5 linked regions of the Homo sapiens genome follow. The protein of the gene in region 5 purifies or fractionates together with the protein of the main gene of each other region. This does not show direct contact. Each region holds a gene or a part of one and is shown on either strand. Other genes may lie near its edges. The genes, in order: POTEI, DCAF4, TMED7, LAMA4 and NID2.

The links.
Region 1: the proteins of NID2 (region 5) and POTEI purify together in Homo sapiens (affinity purification with mass spectrometry; one large-scale study listed by BioGRID and IntAct). This does not show direct contact.
Region 2: the proteins of NID2 (region 5) and DCAF4 purify together in Homo sapiens (co-immunoprecipitation; one large-scale study listed by IntAct). This does not show direct contact.
Region 3: the proteins of NID2 (region 5) and TMED7 purify together in Homo sapiens (affinity purification with mass spectrometry; one large-scale study listed by BioGRID and IntAct). This does not show direct contact.
Region 4: the proteins of NID2 (region 5) and LAMA4 purify together in Homo sapiens (affinity purification with mass spectrometry; one large-scale study listed by BioGRID and IntAct). This does not show direct contact.

What each region holds. Positions count from the first base shown.
Region 1 is NC_000002.12:130,458,042-130,462,144, forward strand, and holds the end of POTEI (POTE ankyrin domain family member I), read right to left. Parts: 3' UTR 1,414-4,103; downstream 1-1,413.
Region 2 is NC_000014.9:72,938,985-72,943,900, forward strand, and holds part of DCAF4 (DDB1- and CUL4-associated factor 4), read left to right. Parts: intron 1-817; coding exon 818-918; intron 919-1,235; coding exon 1,236-1,393; intron 1,394-2,760; coding exon 2,761-2,840; intron 2,841-4,009; coding exon 4,010-4,112; intron 4,113-4,916. UniProt on the Homo sapiens protein: May function as a substrate receptor for CUL4-DDB1 E3 ubiquitin-protein ligase complex.
Region 3 is NC_000005.10:115,619,151-115,624,066, forward strand, and holds part of TMED7 (transmembrane emp24 domain-containing protein 7 precursor), read right to left. Parts: intron 1,531-4,916; coding exon 1,285-1,530; intron 1,270-1,284; exon of another isoform or gene 918-1,269; intron 50-917; exon of another isoform or gene 1-49. Other genes in the region: TMED7-TICAM2 (TRAM adaptor with GOLD domain isoform 1 precursor), read right to left, coding at 1,285-1,530. UniProt on the Homo sapiens protein: Potential role in vesicular protein trafficking, mainly in the early secretory pathway. Appears to play a role in the biosynthesis of secreted cargo including processing and post-translational modifications.
Region 4 is NC_000006.12:112,244,107-112,249,022, reverse strand, and holds part of LAMA4 (laminin subunit alpha-4 isoform 1 precursor), read left to right. Parts: intron 1-4,916. UniProt on the Homo sapiens protein: Binding to cells via a high affinity receptor, laminin is thought to mediate the attachment, migration and organization of cells into tissues during embryonic development by interacting with other extracellular matrix components.
Region 5 is NC_000014.9:52,037,337-52,042,252, forward strand, and holds part of NID2 (nidogen-2 precursor), read right to left. Parts: coding exon 4,769-4,916; intron 3,516-4,768; coding exon 3,315-3,515; intron 1,642-3,314; coding exon 1,411-1,641; intron 1-1,410.

The sequences.
Region 1 (4,103 bases), on a different chromosome or scaffold from region 5:
ATCCATTGTGGAAGACAGTGTGACAATTCCTCAAGGATCTACAACTAGAAATACATTTAACCCAGCAATCCCATTACTGGGTATATACTGAAAAAATAATAAATCATTCTAATATAAAGACACATGCACACGTATGTTTACTGCGGCACAGTTCACAACAGCAAACACTTGGAAGCAACCCAAACGCCCATCAATGATAGACTGGATAATGTGGCATATATACACTATGGAATGCTATGCACCCATAAAAAAGGATGAGTTCATGTCCTTTGCAGGGACATGGATGAAGCTGGAAATCATCATTCTCAGCAAACAAACACAAGAACAGAAAACCAAACACCTCATGTTCTCACTCGTAGGTGGGAACTGAACAATGAGAACACGTGGACACAGAAGGGTAACATAACACACCGAGAACTGTTGTGGGGTGGGGGAGCAGGGAGGGATAGCATTAGGAGATATACCTCATGTTAAATGACGAGTTAATGGGTGCAGCACACCAACATGGCACATGTATACATATGTAACAAACCTGCACATTGTGCACATGTACCCTAAAACTTAAAGTATAATAATAAAATTTAAAAATTAAAAAAAAGTTTTAAAAAATTTCCAACTGGATTTTTTTTTGTTTTTTGTGGTTTTTTTTTTTGTTGTTTTTTTGTTTTGTTTTGTTTTTGTTTTTGTTTTGCAGCCCCAGGAGTTTTAGCCAATTCAGATGCCTTGCTCCCCACAATTTGGAACATTCCTTTGGATTTGACCAAGTCAGGAAGAGATGGGAGAAAAGTGAAACAACAATAAAACCCCAAACATAAACAAAAAGAGTTAAGCAAAACAAACAAATGCACAATTCATATGATTAACTGAGTGTTCTAATGGTAAGGAGGAATTAAAAGCAGCTGGTGGGTAATCTTAAATTTTAGTCATTAAGGAAAAATTTTAAGACAAAACTCTAATTCAGCTACTTACCTGGAAATAAGGCTCAGACTGGGTGATCATTCTCTGCCATCTTAGAAGCTGGAAAAACTTACACTCACCTTCCCTGTCAGAAGCAAGCTGAAACTCAGGAAAGGAGGTGCCTGCTCTCCTTTGTCAATGGAAGCAGGAAAACTTGCCTTCCTTGTTGGAAATGAGTAAAACTTCAAAAAAGGAGTTGTACAGCAAAATCAACCTTACATCTCAACCAAATTTTCGGAGATCAGGGACTCTGTGAAGGGGAGAAGCTCCACAACCTCAGCAAATTATCCTATTGGTTTGGGCAATACAAATAGCCCAGGTTGGTATCAAGCAATAATGAGATTTATCAAAGGTCAGGACCACCTTTGTAATGTCCTTCTCTTTTTTTATCTTTATTGGTAGAGTCTGTTTTGTCAGAAACTGGGAGTGCAACACCTTTTTTCTGTTTTCCATTTGCTTGAAATATTTTTCTCCATTCCTTTATTTTGAGCCTATGTATGGCACTGCACGTGAGATGGGTTGCTTGAAGACGGCATACTCCAGTGGGTCTTGGTTCTTTACCCAGCTTGCCCCGTGTCTTTCAATGGGAGCATTTAGCCCATTTACATTTAAGGTTAGTAATGGTATGTGTGGATTTTATCCTGTCGTCATGCTGTCAGCTGGTTATTTTGCAGACTTACATATGTGCTTGCTTTTTAGCATCATTGGACTGTGTACTTCAGTGTGTTTTTGTAGTAGCAGGTGATGATCTTTTCTTTCCATATTTAGTGCTTCCTTCAGGAGCTCTCGTAAGGTAGATCTGGTGATACCAAATTCCCTCAGCACTTGCTTGTCTGAAAAGGATCTTATTTCTCCTTCACTTATGATGCTTAATTTTGCTGGACATGAAATTCTGGGCTGAAATTTCTTTTCTTTAATGGCAGTTGATGTGGGTTGGGGTGTGTGCTGCACTCCTGTGTGCTCTCAGGGCAAGTAAAGCAAAACCCACCCGTGTAAACACACACAGCAAAGTGATTTAGGAAGTTTCCAAATAAAGGGCTGCCGTATGGAGAGGCAATGTGCAGGCTGGTGCGTGGCTCTAGGGGCCACCTTGCTGCAGCTCTCCACTGATATGGTACAGTCCACTAGCACGGAAGCTATGGTGTGGGCATCTAAGAGTGCCCCGTAAGCAGGTGTGGCCAGGCTGGGGCCATGGGAGAGGCGAGCAGACTAAGGAGTGCTGAGATCAGACCAGCCCCATCTCAAGTGCAAGATTGCCCAGCCTCCAGAGATCAGGTCTCAGAGGAGAACTCTCTCAAAAGTGAACCCCCAGCACAGCACAGCCGCTCTACACAAACGTGGCTAGACTTCTTTTATTAAGCAAGTCTCCTTTTTTTAAAAAGGGAACTCTCGGACCTGATCTCTGCTGGGCAATCTTGCATATAAGATGTGGCTGGTATGACCTCAGTATTCCTAAAGTGCTGGGATAAAGTGTCTCACAAGGGCAAGTGGACCCTAGAGAGACAGCCATCCCTGACCTCTGGGCTCCACATCACCTGACTTGCTGCTCCACCACTTTGCTTGTTTCCTGGGTGCTCCATCCCAGAGACATGTGAGTTAGCAATCACTTAGTGTAATCAGCCCAGGATGGAGGGTCTGTGCTGTGGGCCCAAGCCAGGGTTCCCTGTCTGGTGATGAGTAGTGGAGGGTGTGTGGTACCCGTGGGAGATGGACTGGCTTGTTCTTTGGGTCAACTGCAGCTTATTGGAGGTGTTGATAGGGCACTTAGGGTCTTTGCTCCCTTGCATCTTCTGAGGGCAGCAAGGGCAGTTCCACTGCAGAGGCAGTGGCAGAAAGGATTTCATTTGCTCCTGGAAGCTCTGTCCCAGGAACTGCAGAGTTGCTACTGGCTTGATAGCTCCAGTGGTGGGCTGGCTAGAGACCCAGGCCAGGAGGATCTGCCCATCAAGTAGAGAGCCTGGCCACTTTTCTGTAGGGCTGCTGTGGTATGCTGGGGGTCCCCTCCAGTCCCTAATTGCCTTGTATTTTCCAGGGAAGATGATAGTCTGCCCCTTCCTCTGGAAGCTCTGTACCACTGAGGTACGAACCTGTTGCCAATCTGAACACACCTATAAGATGTGGCTGGAGGCAAGTTGAGAAGTCTTACCTAGTCAGGACGAACAAGAACAGGGACTTGCTTCAAAAAGAAAAGTCTGGCCACGTTTTTATAGAGCAGCTGTGCTGTGCTGGGGGTTCACTTCAGCCCCTGGTCCGCCTCAGACACTCTGAAGCCCTAAGGCTGAAATGCCTGGGTCGCCCCAACAGCAAAGATGACAATCTGGTCCTCCCCCTGGGAGCTCTGACTCAGGGAGGCCTGAGACCTCTGTCGGCCAGAGAACAGCAGTCAAGGTAGCCAGAGACCCTGGTTGAAAGACTTCACCCACTGACTAGAAATGTGGTCAGGGACTGACGTAAACAAGAGTCTGGCCACGTTTTGGTAGCGTGGCTGTGCTGTGCTGAGGTACCTCTTCCACCCCTTGTCAGCTTGGGCTCTCCAAAGCCCGCAGGCCAGAATGGCTAGTCACCGAAAGAGCAAAGGTGGGGGCCTGCCCCTCTCCGGGAGCTCTGTCCCAGGAACATTTCACATTTCCATTGGCCAAGGAATGCTGGTGGGGGTAGCTGGAGGCCCCAGTTGGGAGGTCCTGTCCAGTGAGATGGAACAGGATCAGGGGCCTGCTTACAGAAGCAGTCTGGCCATGATTTGGTAAAGCAGCTATGCTGTGCTGTGGGATCTCTTCTGTCCCTCGTCGGTTTGTACTCTCCAAAGCCCGCAGGCTGGAATGACTAAGTTGCCTGAACGGGAAAGATGGCGGCCTGCCCCGTCTTTTCTCTCAGAGTTTTATCTTGTTTCATGGAGCTTAATTTTTAGCCTGTTGATTTTACTGTCTACGTTAGACTTGTTGAGAAAGAATCTGTTCTCTTTTAGGTGAGATAAATGAGAATTCATTGTCTTCTGTAAATAAACCTGTTCATGTCTTGTTCTCTGGAAAGAAGTCTCTTTCAGCTATCTGACTTTGGTCACAATCATGTAGAGCAGCAGCCAGTCTACAATGACGTAATTGAATTTCCATTTCCGGTGTTTCCTCGTTGTGTCTTACATTGTCCAG
Region 2 (4,916 bases), about 21 Mb from region 5:
CAGCCTCCCAAAGTGCTGGGATTACAGACTTGAACCACCACCCAGGCCAAGGCTACATTAAATGTATTTTTAAAATAAAGTTGGCTGGGCCGGGTGTGGTGGCTGACGCCTGTAATCCCAGCACTTTGGGAGACCAAGGCAGCCGGATCACTTGAGGTCAGGAGTTTGAGACCAGTCTGGCCAACACGGCGAAACTCCGTCTCTACTAAAAATATAAAAATTATCTGGGTGTGGTGGCACACACCTTTACTACATCCTTCAGCCTATAATTCCCTCAGAAGCTACTTGTGGATTTACAAATCAAGTGTTTTAGCCGCAGCTCTATCCCAGTGTTACTGAACTAATCACCTCTGTCCCCCAAACCCCAGTTTCTCTGTCTGTAAGATTGTGTAGTCAAGTAAAATTTAAACTCTTTGTGCTACTGAATCCAATAAAGAATGAAATTCACCTAGCCTTGTAACTGCTGTTGTGCTGACAAATGAGCCCAGCTGGTAAAATTCTTATTGGCAGAGATTTCTATTTTTCCTTTTAATCTGGAAAATTCCACAAGACCTCACAAAATGCGCGAGTGAGAAGATAAGAAGAGGGAATCACTGTGACATCTGTCCTCTTTTAAAGAAAGAAAAAAGAATGAAAAACCAAAACCTTGCCCTATTTTGTTGTATTTGCAAGAGGGGATCAGTGCTTCTCAAGTAATCAGAAAGGTCAGAGATCAGAGGTGAAGGCTGCAGAACTGCCCGAATGGACTCCCTGCCCCCGTCAGAATGGCTGGAACTCAAGTCCTGGGCTGCAAGTTAACACAGCTGTGTGTCAACAGGTCTGACTCCCGGGCAGCACAGCCCGCTCACGATTCCGGCCACGGTGATGACGAGTCTCCGTCAACCTCGTCTGGCACAGCTGGGACCTCCTCTGTGCCAGGTAAGGCCACTTGCGGGGTGGGAATCCTGGCCCTTGCACACAGGGAAGGCTGAGACCCGTTCCTGGCTTGGAAGGAATTCCAGGAGCAAATTGAAACACTCAGGGAAGGAGCTGGGTGCGTCAGGAATGGTGGTCATGAGGCAAACCGCCTCCCCCAGGACTGAGCACAGTCCAGGATGTTGCCTGACAAGGCAGCTCATCCCCGCCCTCAGAAAAGACAGGCAGCCACGAGGTGGGGGGACAGGCCACTGGGCGCCCAACTCAGGTGGTCAGTTCACAGTGGTTGAAATTGGTGCATTTAATTTTTTTGTCTAAAGAGCTACCTGGGTTTTACTTTGACCCTGAAAAGAAACGCTACTTCCGCTTGCTCCCTGGACATAACAACTGCAACCCCCTGACGAAAGAGAGCATCCGGCAGAAGGAGATGGAGAGCAAGAGACTGCGGCTGCTCCAGGAAGAAGACAGACGGAAAAAGGTGGGCTCCTCACCCCTTCGCCCCCTGTCCTCTCCGCTCCTGCCAGCACCTGTCCATCCACTGTTGAAAAGGGTGCCAATTAGATGCCCCTGCGACACTTAGCAGAGGCACTTCAGGGGGTGTGGCCCTAGCTTTTCCCTGACAGGAAGAAGACAAGAATAAGAACAGCCAAGAGCCCCCTTCTTCCATCCCCGTTTTCTTGTTCGATAAGTTGTTTTTTTTTTTTTTTTTGAGGCGGAATCTCACTCTGTTGCCCAGGCTGGAGTACAGTGGCATGATCTCAGCTCAGTGCAACCTCCACCTCCCAGATTCAAGCAATTCTCCTGCCTCAGCCTCCTGAGTAGCTGGGACTACAGGCACGTGCCACCATGCCCAGCTAATTTTTTTATTTTTAGTAGAGACAGGGTTTCACCATGTTGGCCAGGTTGGTCTTGAACTCCTGACTTCAAGTGATCTGCCTGCCTCAGCCTCCCAAAGTGCTGGGATTACAGGCGTGAGCCACCACACCCAGCCTTCTTCAGCAGTTCTAACATTTTGTCATTCCTGAAGGAATCTTGGGAGGCAGTGTGATATAATTTTAGTAACTGTTTTTTGGGGTTTTTTTGAGACAGGGTCCCACTCTGTTGCCCAGGCTGGAGTGCAGTGGCGCCATCTCGGCTCACTGCAACCTCTGCCTCCCAGGTTCAAGTGATCCTCCTGCCTCAGCCTCCCAAGTAGCTGGGATTACAGGAACCTGCCACCATGCCCAGCTAATTTTTGTATTTTTTTTATAGAGATGGAGTTTCACCATGTTGGCCAGGCTGGTCTCGAACTCCTGGCCTCAAGTAATCCGCCCACCTTGGCCTCCCAAAGTGTGGGATTAGAGGTGTGAGCCACCATGCCCATCCCAGCTGTCTATTTTAAATAGAAGACCAGGATGCATGGTTTGGAATACAGGCCATCTTGTCTGTTTGCAATACAGACCAACAGGTCTAGACGCTAACATATTTTGTTGTCAAGGTAGGCAATGGAATGTAAAGTTCCAGCCCTGGGTCACCACGGGTGGAATGGAGAGTGGTGCAGACCTGTTTGCAGTCCCATTGCTGCACTCACGCACCTGGTGGCTTCGTCCCCCCGGGTGTATGTGGATGGGGAGCGTGGGCAGAGTTGACGAGCAGACTTTCCCACTCACACTTTCTTCTGCTGGGCCTTTCCTCTTGCCGAGGAAGGGAGACTTGGAAAGGACACCGTCAGATTTTTATGCATATAATTTCTGCCAATTTAGTGCCTGTTTCCTTCATTACATCCTATGGAACTAAAAACATTCTCCATCATCCCCTAACAAATAAATCTTCATTGAATTGTTCTCTTTTTTGTAATAAATATAGATTGCCAGGATGGGATTTAATGCATCTTCCATGCTACGAAAAAGCCAGCTGGGTTTTCTCAACGTCACCAATTACTGCCAGTAAGACAATGCCTCTTTGTTATGTTTTCTTCATGAATGTTCTTTTCCTGTTTCTTATTTTCATGGTATAAGAATCCAGTCTGGATAGACCATGTGGCTACCCCGTGAAGCACCTGCACAGTTGAGGGGCTCCAGTTCACACCCTGCCTTCTGCTGCTTAAACCCACCCTGAGAAAGCTGTTCTCTCTAGAGCGAAGGCGGGGGACTCTTGCAGGAGGATAGGGAGAGAGGATGGGGACGTAGGCAGAGATGTCTATTCTCTGTTACTCGTAAGTCATTCTAGTAGAAGCTCCTACAACTTCATTCCCATGACATTTCTGCATCCTTCTTTCCCTTCTAATGAGTTGTCACCAACAATGGGGCATTAAGTGGATGTGTGTGTACTAAACCTTATCAAAGTACTTATGATGGCTGATACAATTCTAACTAAAACCCTGTGAAATAGGCCGATACTTTCCCCCATTTCCTGAAGAAGAGACTGAGGCTCAGAGTGGAGTGATTTGCTCAAGGTAAAGCTAGAAGTGGGGAACTGTCTGACTCCAACACCTGAGCGCCCAGCGCTGCGTCTCCTGCCCCCACTGTACATGCTCAAGTGAAGAACCTGCATTTGAGGCAGCTTCCTGGGGCACAGCCCTCGGACCTTGGAGCAGGGCCCCTTCAGGGAAGGCCAGAAACACCGTAGGTATCAGGCAGGGCAGGCCCCTCCTGTTTTCCTCCTTCTGAGACAGAAAGTTAAAAATCTAGTTAGATCTGTTCCTCACCCTGCGAAACAAGAGGCGGCCGTATCCTGGGGCTCTTCCCGGCAGCCGTATCCTGGGGCTCTTCCCAGCAGCGGAGTGCCCTCCAGACCATTGTTTCATCTCCCGCACTTTCGTCATCTCAGGGGAAGGAGCTGTACTGAATGATGCAGACACAACTCCCTCTAACTCCCACTCTTTGACTCTGCAAATGGGCCACCCACTTCTTCATTTTCATCTTCCTGAGCGTTCTGTGGGGAAACTCAAATTCGGATAATCTGGGATCTTGCTCAGCTCCATTGCTGAGAAGTACTGTGGAGCAGGCTGACGAGGAGAGATGGGCGTCAGCGGGGCAGGGAAGGCCAGAGACCCCCGAATCTTCTTCATGGATGTCAGCTTCAGCATCCATGCCCCCACCCTCTGTTTCTGCAGTTTAGCCCACGAGCTGCGTCTCAGCTGCATGGAGAGGAAAAAGGTCCAGATTCGAAGCATGGATCCCTCCGCCTTGGCAAGCGACCGATTTAACCTCATACTGGTGAGTGGGAGGGGGACACCTGCCTAGGGTGTGGCTGCCACCCTCTGGACACTTTGTGGCTTAGCGTTGCCAGTCATCAAACCTGGCTCTGGAGAAGCCAACTGCAATGAAAGTAGGTGGCATCTTCTTGGTTGTACGATTTTAACCTGCCTGCTGGCTACCCGCTGGGAGACGCTGAGCTGGCAGGCAGGCTGTGGGGCGACCATCATCACCCCCCACTTCAGCTCCGTCGTTTAACGTCAGAGTCTGGACCCAGCCACACCTTGACTACTGAACTTTACACAATAACTTCTCCTTGGCTGTGTTGTATATGCAATTAAAAAGGCTCACAGTGGACCTGGGGACATCTGCTTCTTCCTGAACTGGGGCAGGACTTGGTGGCTAAACCTGCAGCCCAGTGTGCCTTTGGTCACTAGAGGGTAGGACTCCTTGCTTGCCGCCCCTGGCTTCAGTGGCACCTCCCATCAACACACCTCCATTACATCATTTGCAGGGGGTGAAAGGCCTTCTCTGGTTTGGGTTGGACCCAAGCTGGAAGCCAAGGTCAGCCGCTTAAACCCAGGGGCCAGGGAAAGGTTGGCAGAGAGCTAGAAGGACCACTGCAAACAAAGGTCCCTGACCTTTCGATGGACCACGTAAGAGCAGGGCCTGCCCGGCAAGCCCTATCCTTCCTGGAGGCTGAGGGAAAGCCAGGGAGAGTGAGAGGAGGATACAGAGGCAGGAGCATCTGGACTCGGTCATCTGCTGGTGGGACTGGAGGCCGATGCTAGAGATTGACCCTGGAGGTTGATACTGCATCCTCCT
Region 3 (4,916 bases), on a different chromosome or scaffold from region 5:
AGCCACCTTATACAAGTTAAAATTCATGAAGGAATGGATACAGGTTAAGGTAATGGCCCCAAAGAAATATCATTTTACAAAGCAAGGTGTCCTTCACACAAGACCTTAAAATAAAGAGAACATTTCTAAAATTAAGAGTATTTGAATATATCTTGCTAATTCTAACAACAGGTTTATGAATTAAGGCTTTTACACATTCTTAAAGCTGTTTCTTTCACCATGACTTTGGCCAAGAGACTAAATAGAACCTGGGAACACTAAAATACCAGTTTAAGATGTTAACGAATAAGTGGTAAATAATTCTTTTTCATGCCTAATTGAGTAACTTTTAGATACGATCTAAGCCCATACAGGTTGAGTATCCCTTATCCAAAATGTTTGGGACCAGAAGTGCTTTGAATTTCAGATTTTTTCTGATTTTGGAATGTCTACATATACATAATGAGATATCTTTGTGATGGAACCCAGGTCTAGACATGAAATTCATTTATGTTTCATATATGCCTTATACATGCAGCCTTAAGGCAACTGTATATGATATTTTCAATGATGTGTCATGAGATCAGATGTAACAATCTTCCACTTGTGTCATCAGGTTGGAGCTAAAAAAAAGTTTTGGATTTTGAAGCATTTTGGATTTTGCTGTATTTGAACTAGAAATAAAACAGTCCTCATCACCTAAGCAATAGTTGTTCACTGGGTTTAAATTTTTTACGCTTTCTCTATGTCTCCAAAATAAATCTGAATTTAGCTTTTGTAACTATTTTTGTGAGATGACTTACCATTAATCTTCAATATTTCACCTAAAGTTACAGCACAAGTTACTGTTACAGCAGCTTGAGTAACACTAAGTAATGGTATAAAGGCTATGATATGGTATTATTTATCTACTAATTTAGGCATCATTTTGCTTCCAGTTACACCAGCCTCCTGAGTATGACAGCAACATTCCTTCAGGGATTAAAGAAAATGCTTCAGAAGATTGGAACACTGCTCAGCCTTCCCAACCTTCTTTTACCACTGATGTTTCTACCTTAGTGATCTTCCTCCTTATTTTAATGCTTCTTTCTCTTTACAATTAAAAGTTCATAAAATCTTTCAACATTATTTTTCACTACAAAAGTCTGAAGTTCTCTGTGAAATGCCTACATGTAAGAATTAAGATAGATTTTAAAGACTGTCAGTCTCAAAATTCCATGCTCATCAGTTAGTGCATGATATTAAATTATGCTTTTTTCCTCCTTTTAAATATACCAACATTATATTGCTGATTTTTTTATTTACCTGGGTAAGAGCACTGACTCGGTTCTCACTAGGAAACAAAGGTGGGTCTTCTCCAACTTGAAAATCAAAATATACAGTTTTATGTGTGAAAGTAGAAAATTCATTGCTGAAGCAAAATTTGTATGTCCCATTTTTGGAGGCTGTGAAGGTAAAACTATCATACTGTTTCTTCATCTCTTTGTATAACACTTTACCATCAGGATCTTCTAATCGACAATCTACATCATAGTGACCACCAGTAATCACCTGTAAGAGATTAAAAAAGAAAAATCACTGTGAAAAGTGTGAAAAATTAATCAGATTTAATCAGATTTCCTATTAAAATGGCAATAAGGTGATGGGCAAAGGACTTTTACTATCTTTTTAAATTTTCACCAGTGGATGGAACTTGGGAGATTTTACTTCAACTAAACTTTACAGAAACTGAACAAGTATTCTCCAACTTTTATTCACTTTGAACTAGCCAGACAACTGTGCTAATTAATGGAGATCTATTAGATCACTTAATTCTCCCAGCAACCCTACAATATACTTTTTTCCTTCCATTTGACAGACTGAAAAACTGATGTTAAATAAGCGAACTATTCAAGACTGTTCATCTAAATTAAGTGGGAAAGGCAGAACTTGAACTCCAAAGTCATATTCTTAACCTCTAAGCTTACTGCCTGCAATATTTTCCTTCTGAAAATTTTCTAACCCACTTTCCTATTAGCATCATCCAAGCACACACACAGTGAAGTAACAAGGTAGGCCAATCCTTAGGATTACACCCCATTCATACTTCTATCATAGAACTTAAGCTCATTTTACTGCCAAATTACAAATAGATTACATTTATTAAGTTCTTTTATAGTCAGTTATATGGAATTTGATATACATTTTGTTTTGAACTACACTATAAGTTGAGTAACGGAGTGGGCTATTCTAAAAGTATATAATCATTTACAACCTTGTTTTGAGGAGAGACACGTAACTGATTAAATAAAATATTGTTGAAACTCTTGTGATTAAAGCAAAAACAAAATAACATGAAGGACAACAAGTCTGTTTATCTAGAAAGCCAGTACTTAATGGCAAACATACTGAATGGAAGCCTGGAGGTAGGTGATATGAGTCTGAACAGAACTGTGGAACTACTTTCCACGGCTTATGCTTAATCAGTTACAATTCCAGCCATTTGGGTTGTACAGAGGAGGGAGAGATTTTTCCTGCGGTAACTGGATAAGTATTGTAAGAGACAAAAGGGGGAAAGGATTAAAGAGAAAGGCTTCCTTACATGAGAAAGAACTGAGTAGGAAGAAAGAGGGAGTGCAGAGAGGTGAACAGAGTGAACGTATACACATTGGGTTGAATGAAGGGTTCCCAAACCACCATGTGATTGGGGAGCACAAGATTGTTATTTTCAACCTTGAACTCTCTTGGTTAGCATCCTGACATTCTAGGTCAAACTTTGGATTTAAAAGAAGGATCTGTGTGACCTTTTCTCACTTGAGAGAAGATGACTAATGAACTATGTTACATATCATTTTGATAATCTAATGAAAATAATTATGCACTTATGAAACTGTAAAAATATGTAAATGTTAATATACAGATAAAATGTTTTGATATAAAAGTGTCTTATCAATTGGGGATTTACCAATCCCCATCCTCACCAAAAAGTCAGTAACTTTTTCTCCAGGTGAAAATAACTTCATTTTGCTATACTGAATTATACGTATTTGACCATTGTATTCTGAATAATCAAACACATACATACAAACCGAATAGCACCAGAACTTATCATCACCCCACTTCTCTTCCATCAAACTTAAAACAAGTAATCTCACTTAACAGTATCCCTTTAAACCTGTCCAATCACCTACTATTGAAACTGAGGATCATCCCAAACTAACTGTCCCTATCTATCCATATGATCACACAAATCTCTCAATCTTTTTGCCCCTCTCAAATTCATCGCATTCCGAAACCACAATCCAGACAGGACTATTGCCACAACTTCCTAAAAGGTCTTCCCACTACCCAATATCTTCTCCCTCGAACTCAGGGTTTCTCAACCTCGCATTATTCCCATTTTGAACTGAATAATTCTGTGTTGTAGGAGGCTGTATGGTCCTGTGCACTGTGACACGTTAAACAGCATACCTGGTCTCTAACTACTAGATGCAGGTAGCTGCCCTTCTCCTAAAATGATGCCGAATGTCTCCTGGGAAGAAGGGGTGCCCATCTCCCCATCTTTCCTCATTCCCCATTGAGCAATCACTTAAAAACTTTTTGATAATTACCTGTGGCCTGCAGACAAATCTAAACCTCTTAACAATGGTATACTATTCACATGTTCTTCCTCCCAGGTAGCTTCAGAACCTCTTTTATTCACACCCTTACTCGTTCTATGTTCCTAAAATACCAGACTACCAGAAATTCTCTGAACAAGTCTTTGCTTTACATCTGCACTGACAGTGCAGTTCAACAGGGTTTGCTAAAGAATCACACGGATCAAAATGACAGTGTTTGCAAATCTACAGTTTATTACTGTAGGTTATGTTATAAATCTACAGTTTATAACATTATACGACTATATATGTCTATGTAAGCTCTCTGAGGTCAGAGTCAGTCTCTGGGAGGTAGTATAATAAAGTGGCTAAGAATTTAACTTGGGACTGAAAAGAGCCCCAAAAGGAAAAGAATATAAAACATTACAGCCAAAGGCTGCCTCACAGCAAGAGATCTGAAAAGGTCAGGTGTGGGCTCCTTCGGCTTCCCTTTGTTAGGTGTGTGGCCAGACATATACTCTCTCAGATCTGGAACCACCCAAGTGTGCAAAGAAAACACCCTGGAACCAAGCAACCCAAAATAGAGTCCTGATTGCATTTTTAAATATTTTGCTGGTCACATAGGCATATTCCTGCTACGCAGCTAGTCTCAACAACAGAGCTCTGGGTTGGGGGTGTGGTCTCATGAAGACCAGGAGCAAATCATCAATCTCATTGTTACCAATAAATAATGTTGACAAACTGGTACAAACTGCCCCCAAAGCCCTTGGACTCACAGTCACAAAGCTATTATAATAGCTTCATATTAAAGCTAATAATAATAGTTTTGTGACTATTAATAAATATAACTATAGTCACAAAACTATTATTATTCAGTGTATTTTCAATGCCATGCACAAATGTTAGCAATATAGCTCAGGCTAATTTCAGGCCTGCTGGAACTGTCATGAACATATCTGCCTGGGGCCCCTTCTTCTCTCCTCTGCCGCCTTGTAGAGCAACGGCTACTTATCTTGCAGACTCACCTCTAACATCAGCTCCTCAGCTAAATGTCCCCTGATGATCCTTCTGTCTCCTGCCAGCACTATACCTAGTGTGTACCTTTATTGTCACATTTAACATTTTATGACTATATATGTCTGTGTAAGCTCTCTGAGATCAAAGTCAGTCTCTGGGAGGTAGTATAATAAAGTGGTTAAGAATTTAACTTGGGACTGCGTTACTGATTTAGCTACTTCTACGTTTTATGCCCTTGGTTCTTAGCCTATCTAAACCTCAGTTTCATCAGTAAAAAAGGAGTAAGAGCTATAACAATTTCATATCGGGCTTTCCTGAGAACATACCTGAAATGCTTAACAT
Region 4 (4,916 bases), on a different chromosome or scaffold from region 5:
CTCACGTAAGAAAGAAAAAAACTAATACTTGTTGACTTCTACTATGTCCCATCAACCTCCATGAATTGTCTTAATACTAAATAGTGAAAATTATACCCATTTTACAGATGAGTTCATTGACATTTAAGAGTGGTAATTACCTTAACCAAATTTTCATATTCCTTTCTCTGCTTTCTGTATACCAGGGAGTCTTCCTGATAGAGCACTTTTTTTTTCAACTATAGAGTCTCCTTATCCTATTTTCTCTTTATAATGATATTCTAGGGTGTGTCCTCCACGTGATGCTACAGTCTATCTTAAAAGCTGTTGATTTAGATTAATAAGTAGGAAATTCATAACAGTATTACCTATGGAATACCTGGTCTATGTTATGGAATTTATTATAACATTGCTAAAAAGTAAAGAATTCCATTCCCTAGTGTTCCAGGGTTCTCTGATTTAACCAGAGGAAGTCTTTTCTTTTAACATGATAAAATAAAAATAACAGAAACTTTGCCATTTGAACTTTTTTTTTTTTTTTTTTTGAGACAGAGTCTCCCTCTGTCACCCAGGCTGGAGTACAGTGGTGCTATCTTGGCTCGCTGCAACCTCTGCCTCCCGGGTTCAAGCAATTCTCCTGCATCAGCCTCCCGAGTAGCTGGGACTACAAGCGTGTGCCACCATGCCTGGCTAATTTTTTGTATTTTTAGTAGAGACGGGTTTCACCGTGTTAGCCAGGATGGTCTCAATCTCCTGACCTTGTGATCTGCCTGCCTCGGCCTCCCAAAGTGCTGGGATTACAGGCATGAGCCACTGCACCTGGCCATTTGAACTATTTTTAAGGGCACAGTTCAGTGGCATTGACTATATTCACATTGTTATAAAACCATCACCATCAATCTCCAGAACTTTTTCATTTTCCCAAACTGAAACCCATTAAATGATAACTTCCGATTAACTCCTTCCTCCAGCCCCTGGCAACAACAATTCTACTTTGTCTCTATGAATTTAACTACTCTAAATACTCCATATACATAATCATGCAGTACTTATCCTTTTGTGCCTAGCTTATTTCATTTGGCATAATGTCTTTGAGGCTCACCCATGTTGTAGCATGTGTCAGAATTGCATTCCTTTTTAAAACTGAATAATACTCTGTTTATATGTACACTATGTTTTGTCCATTCATTTTGTTGATGGACATTTGGGTCGTTTCTACCTTTTGGCTACTGTGAGTAATGCTGCTATGAATATTGCTGTACAAGCCTCTGTTTGAGTTCTTGCTTTCAGTTTTTTGGGAGTGTATACCTAGAAGTGGAATTGCTGGATCATATGGTACAGAGAAAGTTTTAAGACTTGGAGTCTTATAGGGGCCAGGTAAAAAAGAATTGAGTGAATCTAGCTCGGTAAAGAAACGCATCCTGTGAGTGGTGGGCCTCGATAACAGGAAATGGAAGAATCCCTCTTCCAGAGTGGCAGCCACCTCTCAGCATTGCCAGGTCTTCTGGTTTTGTTTTGTTTTGTTGTGTCTTTTTCAAAAGAAGACAGAATTTGGATTCATAAGTGAAATTGCTGACTCAAATTTTTTTTAATGCCCTGTAGGCTGAGTACATCTGAGGGCCAGATTCAGCCTAAAGATCATTTATTTGCAGCCTCTGCTTTACAATATTTTGAAGTTCACCTTTCGTTACAGGCAGAATATGGGCTTACAACCAGACAGATGCGCTGTGAATCCAGCTCCACAACTTTCTAGCTGTTTGACTTTGGGCAAATTGGACCATCTTTTAGATACTCAGTTCCTTTGATTGTAAAATAAATAGAAATACACCTGCCTTGCAAAATTCTTGTGAAATTTAAATGAAATAATATATGTAAGCTGCCCAACACAAAGTTAGCCCTCATTTCTCTCAGTCTGTCCCTCCTTCCTTTCCCTCATTTTTCCACTCTCTGCCTCTGTCTATCTTCAGGTAAAGCTCTACACTATCTTGTTAAAAGTATTTTGTTATCAAACTCTTTACTTATTCCATAAATTCGAGTACTTTTAACTTTTGCTTAAAATTTGCTGATTATCCAACATTGGAGAAGAAGGCTGTCATTTAGTTTTTATAATCATTGTGTCTTTTATGGTTCTTTAAACAGCCTTTCCCCAGCAATAGGAGGATCTGAGCAGTTAAGAGAAATGAATGCTAAATCCCTAGAAAAGCTAAAGAAAAAAGCCAACAGCAGCTGGGCACGGTGGCTCACGCCTGTAATCCCAACACTTTGGGAGGCCAAGATGGGTGGATCACAAAGTCAGGAGTTCAAGACCAGCCTGGCCAAGATGGTGAGACCCCGCCTCTACTAAAAATACAAAAAAATTAGCTGGACATGGTGGCAGGTGCCTGTAATCCCAGCTACTTGGGAGGCTGAAGCAGAGAATTCCTTGAACTCGGGAGGCGGAGGTTGCAGTGAGCGGAGATTGTGCCATTGCACTCCAGCCTGGGCGACAGAGCGAGACTCTATCTCAAAAAAAAAAAAAAAAAAGCAGCTTTGATATGACAAGGATAATACCTTTTTTCCTCTCATAATTAAATACTAAATCTGACTTGTCACAGTTTCTTGAATTAAAATGCCAAAAACACTCCCCTACTTTAGAGTTTTTTCTGGCTTATAGTAACCACATAAATATAATGATGGCCAGACATAATTTTGAGAACTTTGATTGGTTAAAAGCCATTAAAACCAGATTGCTAGTATATGCTTTGAGTCCAAACCTTAGCATTTCCAAACAATCATTTTTTTCTAAAATAAGTAAACCTAGTCTATTGATGTATAGTGACCATACAGAAGAATATTTAAATACCTACTCATATTTGCAAAAGAGCAGCATTCTTTTTTCAACTGTTTTTCTTTTTGGCTCTTGGTGTGGTAAAGTTAAATTCTGGGAAATGGTTTACTAAAGGGAAGTTTAACCACAGATGTTTGTAATTCCAACTTAAGTTTCCCATCAAAGTCTTAATGAAATTCAGCTGCCAGCAGTTCGGCTCTGAATCTGAGTCTTTTTATCATGAGAAACTTGGGGGAAACAACATTCTGAAGCTGAATGGTAATGGGAAAATTTCCATATTCAGCCCAAATCCTCTCCATAAAGAAAAAAATACATAAACAAATTCTGTTAAAAGCGGGAGGAGAGACGGGTGAATATAATTTGAGTAATATGCAAAATGACCTTCTTTTCACTCCCAGGACTTTCTTAGTTTTTATGTTGTGTTTTGGTGGAGGCTAGAGATCCGTGTTTACCTAAATGGAGTGAAGTATACACATTTTTTACTTCATGAGAACTGATGAGTTAGAGAAATCCCGTAACATTAACAGCTGCATTAGCACAAGTCTTTGCAGAGTAGACCAGTCATCCAGGCTGTACTCTACAGCTAAAAGGGCCCCTGAGCATGATGAAGACTTTGCATATTAATATTTATTTTGAAATTATGCCATTTTGGAGTGGCATGATTGCTTCAAAGGAAATCAAGGACTCTAGGAATCAAAAGTACCTTCACTAAAACTTCCCTCACACACACAACTATTACATGGAACACTGTTGTCTATGTACAAAGTGAAATGCAACATGGCATGCTGAACCAAGCAGCTCTAGAAAGCCAAATGTCAGTCCAAAGAAACACATAACATAGACACCAGCCAAAGGGAAGAGAAATGTCTAGTAAGCCTCAGGCCCTGGGATGCTAGGACTATAGAACCCTCTAGAATCACAACACAGAGCCACAGCACAAATTCGGGTTCTGAAAACCCTGGCAAGCCTCTTCTTCCACAGCAGAGGTAGTCCAGGATGCCTTTCAAACTTCATGGCTACATGTGTGTGTTTCCCTTTGATGAACAGTGATACAATTTGACAAGCTGAAGGTGTTACCTAAGTGTTACCTCTTTTCCTGCTATCTGTCCTGAGTCCTAGGTGGTTCTGTCAACCCCCAGGTCACAGATGAGGTGTTAAATGCCTGCTATTTGGAGATTAAATGGTCTGAATATCTGGAGATGGGCTGCGGTTTAATTGTAGTACATGAATAATTGCCTCATTTTATATTGTTCCTTTGAAATTGTTGTCTGCCACCATTAATGCCAATAGACACCCTGAAATTCCATTCATAAGAGACCTGAAGCTTCTCCTGCAGCACAGAATTCAGCATAAAGGAGACCTGTTTGAAAGCAGAGTCAGTGGGTGGTTATTATTGGTTACATAAATCTATCATACCTTGCAATATGAGCCATGAAATCAAAGGAATCATAGAATGTCAGACTTAGGAAGTTTAGAGATTCAACTCTCTCATTTTGTACGTGAGAAGAGAGGGGAGGTGTGGGTGCTTGACCCCGGGACACAATGCCCATTAGCAGTAGTACACGTGTCACAGGGTAAACCCCCAAATTGGAGTTCAGCCTGGGAGGCCATGTGGGTTCTTGGCTTCACACAGGGAGGAACTCAAGAACCAGCCGACAGAGTAAAATGAAAGCAAGTTTATTAAGAAAGTAAAGGAATAAAAGGGTGCGTACTCTATAGACAAGCAGTCCTGAGGGCTGCTGGTTGTCTGTGTTTATGGTTATTTCTTGATCATATGCTACACAAGGGATGGATTATTTATGAGTTTTCCAGGAAAGGGATGGGGAAGTCTCAGAACCGTGAGTTTCTCCACCTTTCAGGCCTTATAGGGTAACTTCCAGACATTTCATGGCATTTGTAAACTGTCACGGTGCTGGTGGGAGTTTCTTTTGGTATGCTAATGTATTATAATTAGCATGTAATGAGCAGTGACAGAGACCAGAGGTGGCTTTTATTACCATCTTGGTTTTGGCGTGGTTTGGCCAGCTTCTTTACTGCGGGGTCTTTGTGACCTGTTACCTTGTGAAACCAGTCCTGCTGGTTCTCACTTTTTGCCTTATGTTCTTTTCAA
Region 5 (4,916 bases):
ACAACGTGCAGGTTTGTTACATATGTGTACATGTGCCATGTTGGTGAGCTGCACCCATTAACTCGTCATTTAGCATTAGGTATATCTCCTAATGCTATCCCTCCCCACTCCCGGCACTGTTGTTGAAAAAGCAATTGACTTTTAATGTGAGTATTTCTGGGTTCCCACTTCTGTTCCTTTGATCTTTACATGTATCCTTACGCCAGGACCACACTGTCTTGATTACTCTAGATTTCGAGTTTGAGAAATACAAGTCTGACTTTATTCTTTTCCAAGATTGTTTTGGCTATTCTGTGTTCTTTGAATTTCCATATAAATTCTAGAATCAGCTTGCCAATTTCTTCAAAGAGCCAGCTGAGATTCTGATAGGGATTATGTTGAATTAATAGATCAATTTGGGAAGTATTCACATCTTAACAGTATTAAGTCTTCCAATCCATGAATGTGGAACATCTTCCCATTTAACTGGGTCTTAAATTTTTTTCCAAAAATGTTTTGTGGGATGCAATGTACAAGTACTGCACTTCTTTTTAAAAATTTATCTCTTTTTGAAACAATTTCTTAATCTTTAGTTTGCTCATTGCTACTATAGAGAAATACAATTTGGTGTACTGATCTTGCATATCTTATAACATTGCGAACTTGTTCTTTAGTTCTAATAGTGTTTTAGTGAATTCCTGAGATTTTCTACACAAAATGTCATCTGAGACTAATTTTACTTTGTCCTTTTCCAATTTAGATGGCTTTTATTTTGTGTTCTTGCCTAATCACCCTGGCTAGAAATTCTAGTACTGAATTGAATAAAAGTGGCAACAGCAGACATCCTTGTCTTGTTCCTAAGCTTCAGGGAAAAGCATCCAGTCTTTCACCATTAAGTATAATGTTCTGGGAATCATGGAGGGGGAGGTTATACATCAAGTTCTATGATGTTTGGTTTTTCCAGATACTAGCTCTTTGCTCCACCTTAGTTTTGGATGAAATTCTTCTCATCTGTTTTAGCTAAAATGTCACTTTCTTGGGGACATCTTTTCTGAATCTTCAAACTAGACTCACAGTGCCCTGCTCTCATCACACTTGTAACAAATACTTGTCAGCATCACTCTCCCTCCTAATTCCAGTCTGCCTTGTTCACAGGTATATTCCTGATTGGCACGCACAGTTGGGTATTGCTATAAACCAGCTTCACATACTATGCTCTATTTCCTGACTTTGGCAGGGACACTGTTCCCTGCCCTAAAACTCTTTTCTGCCTCTGTTTCCAACTCAAGGGCAAGGATCTGCTCTATTCATCCTTATACCTAGCACATAACACAGCATGGCACTAGGTAACCCTTAGTAACCTCTGTGAATCATTCTAACTCTACTTAAAAGGATGTCATTTTTACCCAACAACAAAAAAGGAAACCTTACCTTTGACCGGGCCAATTTGATTGGTCACAGCAAATCTAAGCACTCTTTCTTCGTCATTATACAAGGCAAAGACCCGGTCCACGTTCAGCTGCTGGGTGGTGGGGAAGGACGGGTGTCTGGGGGCGTGCCTGCACACCTGGTAAGTGATGTTCTGGTGGATGCGGTAGGACCATGTTTGGTTGATTGCACCAAAAGTCAGAGAGTAGTCTCTGGAACTTGTAGAGGTCACAGCTGCAACAAACACAGTGGTAATTTTTTAAAAATATTAAATACAGAGATTTTCATGTGAGGTGGATTTTTCTGCAGTTTTTTTCATCTAATTCTTGGAGTGTGTTCCCTTGGGAACCTCCTGAGTTTATATGAAAAAATGTGTAAGGAAATCCCAAAAACCTGAGTGGATGCAAAGCCACAGTGCTGAGAGGGAGAAGGCACTACAATTGTCCATGTTATTATACACAAAGAATAAGTGTTACTAAGGGCCAGCCATGCCAACAGTGCTCTCTACATACTGCCTCATTTATTCCTCACAACAGCCTGGTGAGGTGGGCACTAAATCATGTGATCAGAGGCTCACAAAGGTTAAGTAGCCTAAGATGCAATGCTGCCACATGGTAGAGCTGGAACTGAAACTCACATTGGTTTGACTCTACACCCTAAATTTTAAACCAATCCATCTTCTACATTTCACAGAAGTGACGACTTCCAACACCTCGCACTTCAGTAAATCTGAAGGATTCCAGAGAAGGGAAAGGGTTGTCTCTCACCATCTGAGTCTAGGAGTCAAGCTCAGGTCAGTGATCCGGACACTGACCATTTTGTTCACAGCCCAGGTCTCTGCTTCCCCTTGTCTTCCCTACATCTCCTGCCAGGCTGCCAGCTCTCAGCATAGGAGCAGCAGGGGTCAGAGGAAAGGCACAACTCAATCCGGATTGCTGTGCTGCACAACAGCAGCTGTGATGGAGGCAGCATCCTGTGCGCAGGTAGTACTTTCACAGAACACATCACGCTTCGCACACATTGATCACATAATATAGAAAAAGCATTTTTAGTTCCATGTGAAAGATGAGAAAATACATTCTCAGATATTAAGAGGCCTTTCCCTATAGATATTAAATGGCAAGTCCAGGATATAAATTCTTATCTTTTGACTCCAAATCTAGCATTAGTTTTATAATAAATTATAGCATCTCTGTGTTTTTTGGTTTTGTTTTTGAGATGGAGTCTTGCTTTGTCGCCCAGGCTGGAGTACAATGGCACAATCTCGGCTCACTGCAACCTCCACTTCCCAGGTTCAGATGATTCTCCTGCCTCAGCCTCCCAAGTAGCTGGGATCGCAGGAGCGTGCCACCACACCCTGCTAATTTTTGTATTTTTAGTAGAAACAGGTTTTCACCATGTTGGCCAGGCTGGTCTTGAACTCCTGACCTCAGGTGATCCACCCACCTTGGCCTCCCAAAGTGGTGGGATTACAGGCATGAGCCATTGCACCTGGCCTCTTTCTGTGATTTTTTTTTTTTTTAAAGCAGCCTGAACTCATCAGCTGAAACAAGGTTGAGATAAATATAAATTCCAATAATCACTATTTTTCCATGTTGCAGAAAGTAGGATGGTTAAAAACTGTATATAATTATACCATCCCTACCCACCCCATGGACAATGTTGCTATTGATTTTATTATTTGAAAATACTATGTAGGGATATAGATATTCTTATGTATAGCAGCCATTCTGCTCACTTACACGATATATTTCATGGTAACAATAAGAGTAATAACATAATAGAGCTCATTTTATGTTCCATGCACTGTTCTAAGGACATGCCATGTAAGTCATTTAAGCCTTGTATCTATCTTGTGAGATGGGCATAATCCCCATTTTACAGATGTGAAGACTGGTTATACATACTGGAGTCGGAGTAGTGGTACAGCTCCTTGTAGGGAGAGATGTGGGCTGTGAAATTTGCTGAGACGTAAGGCACCTGGCCTTGAATGTTGGTCTTAATGCTCAGGTAGTTCTCTGGGTCAAGTCCCTCAGCAGTTTGAGTGATACGAACCGTCTCCTCTCCCGGGTAGAATGTAACTTCCATGTCATGGGTAAAGGCAGCACCTGGAGATGAAAAACATTCAGCACAGGGATGAAAAGAGGTCTTGCTTAAACAGTTACCAGTATATACTGCCCGCTCCCAATTTCTACTGCTGTTGGAGATCGTGCCTAAGGAGATTATCTGATATCTGAGAGTAAGCACTATCAGCTGTTGATTCCATAAGTTCCCAAACTTTTCCATTGAAGAATATGGTTTCATCCTGCCTTACCTCACCCAGCTTCTCTTTGAACAAGCTTGTATTCTGTGAGAAATACTCTTGGGAACGTCCTTGACTTTTCTCTAAGGTTGCTAGACTTAGCAAAAAACAAACAAACAAATAAACCTAACAACAAAAAAACAAAAACAAATAAACTACCACCTAAGACATTCAGGGTTTTGTTTGAATTTCAGATAAGTATGTCTCATGAAATATGTGGGTAATACTTATACTAGAAAATTGTTTATCTGAAATACAAATTTATCCAGGTGTGCCATTTTTTATCTACTTTTGACCCAAGGGCTTTATTCAAATTTTGATTAAAGCAAGAACCTATTAACAGCTACCGAGCTCTGCAGTTAAAGATGGAGAAAGAACTTCTCACAAAACTATTTTTAATGCAATAAAGATAAAACCTCTAGCAAACAAGTTTTCAGGTTGGAAGGTGAGAATCCAAAAAGTATCTTCTAAATCCTTGTTGTCAACGGGTGGCCTTTCCAGCAACACTGGTACCTCACCTCCTAGCTTGGTAGAAAAGCAAAATCACGGACCCCACCCCAGGCCTGCTGAACCAGAATTTACATTTTGACAAGACCTCCAAGTGATGTGTGTGCAGGTTCAAGTCTGGGGTGCACCGGCCTATACTATTATAGGTTGTGGAGCTGGGAGGAGAAGAGCACCCCTTCCCCATGAAGTAAAATCATCCCCAGGTGCCCCAAGTACCATTTTTGCATTTGACAGATCTGTGCATAATTTAAAAAGCCTGACAAATATGCTGCAACAAATTGGGGTAAGAGGACACAAATGTTCTGAATGGAATCATCCTGTTTCTCAGAACAGCTGGGAGAACATTTAGACGAAATCACTGCCTTTCAAAAATCAGTGATGTGAGGTCAAACCATTCCCAACAACCTGTGGCCAGAAAACTACACACATGTGGCTCTAGTACATTAAACAAGTGATTCCTCTGTCACTGCGTAAAGGCCTAAAGACAGTGCCCCAAGGAGCACCACTGCCAAAGCAATGCTGACTACCGGCCTTCTCAGAGGCCCTACTCACCTGCGAGGCTGAAGCCGTTCTCAGAGCCAGGTTTTTCTAAAGCAAAGAGCCAGCCAAACAGGCCTCCAATTGGTGTGAGGGGGAGGAGGGCCTGGGCTGCTGGCTGTGGGATGTGGCTGATGGCCGTGTAGGCTCTGCCATCATTGCC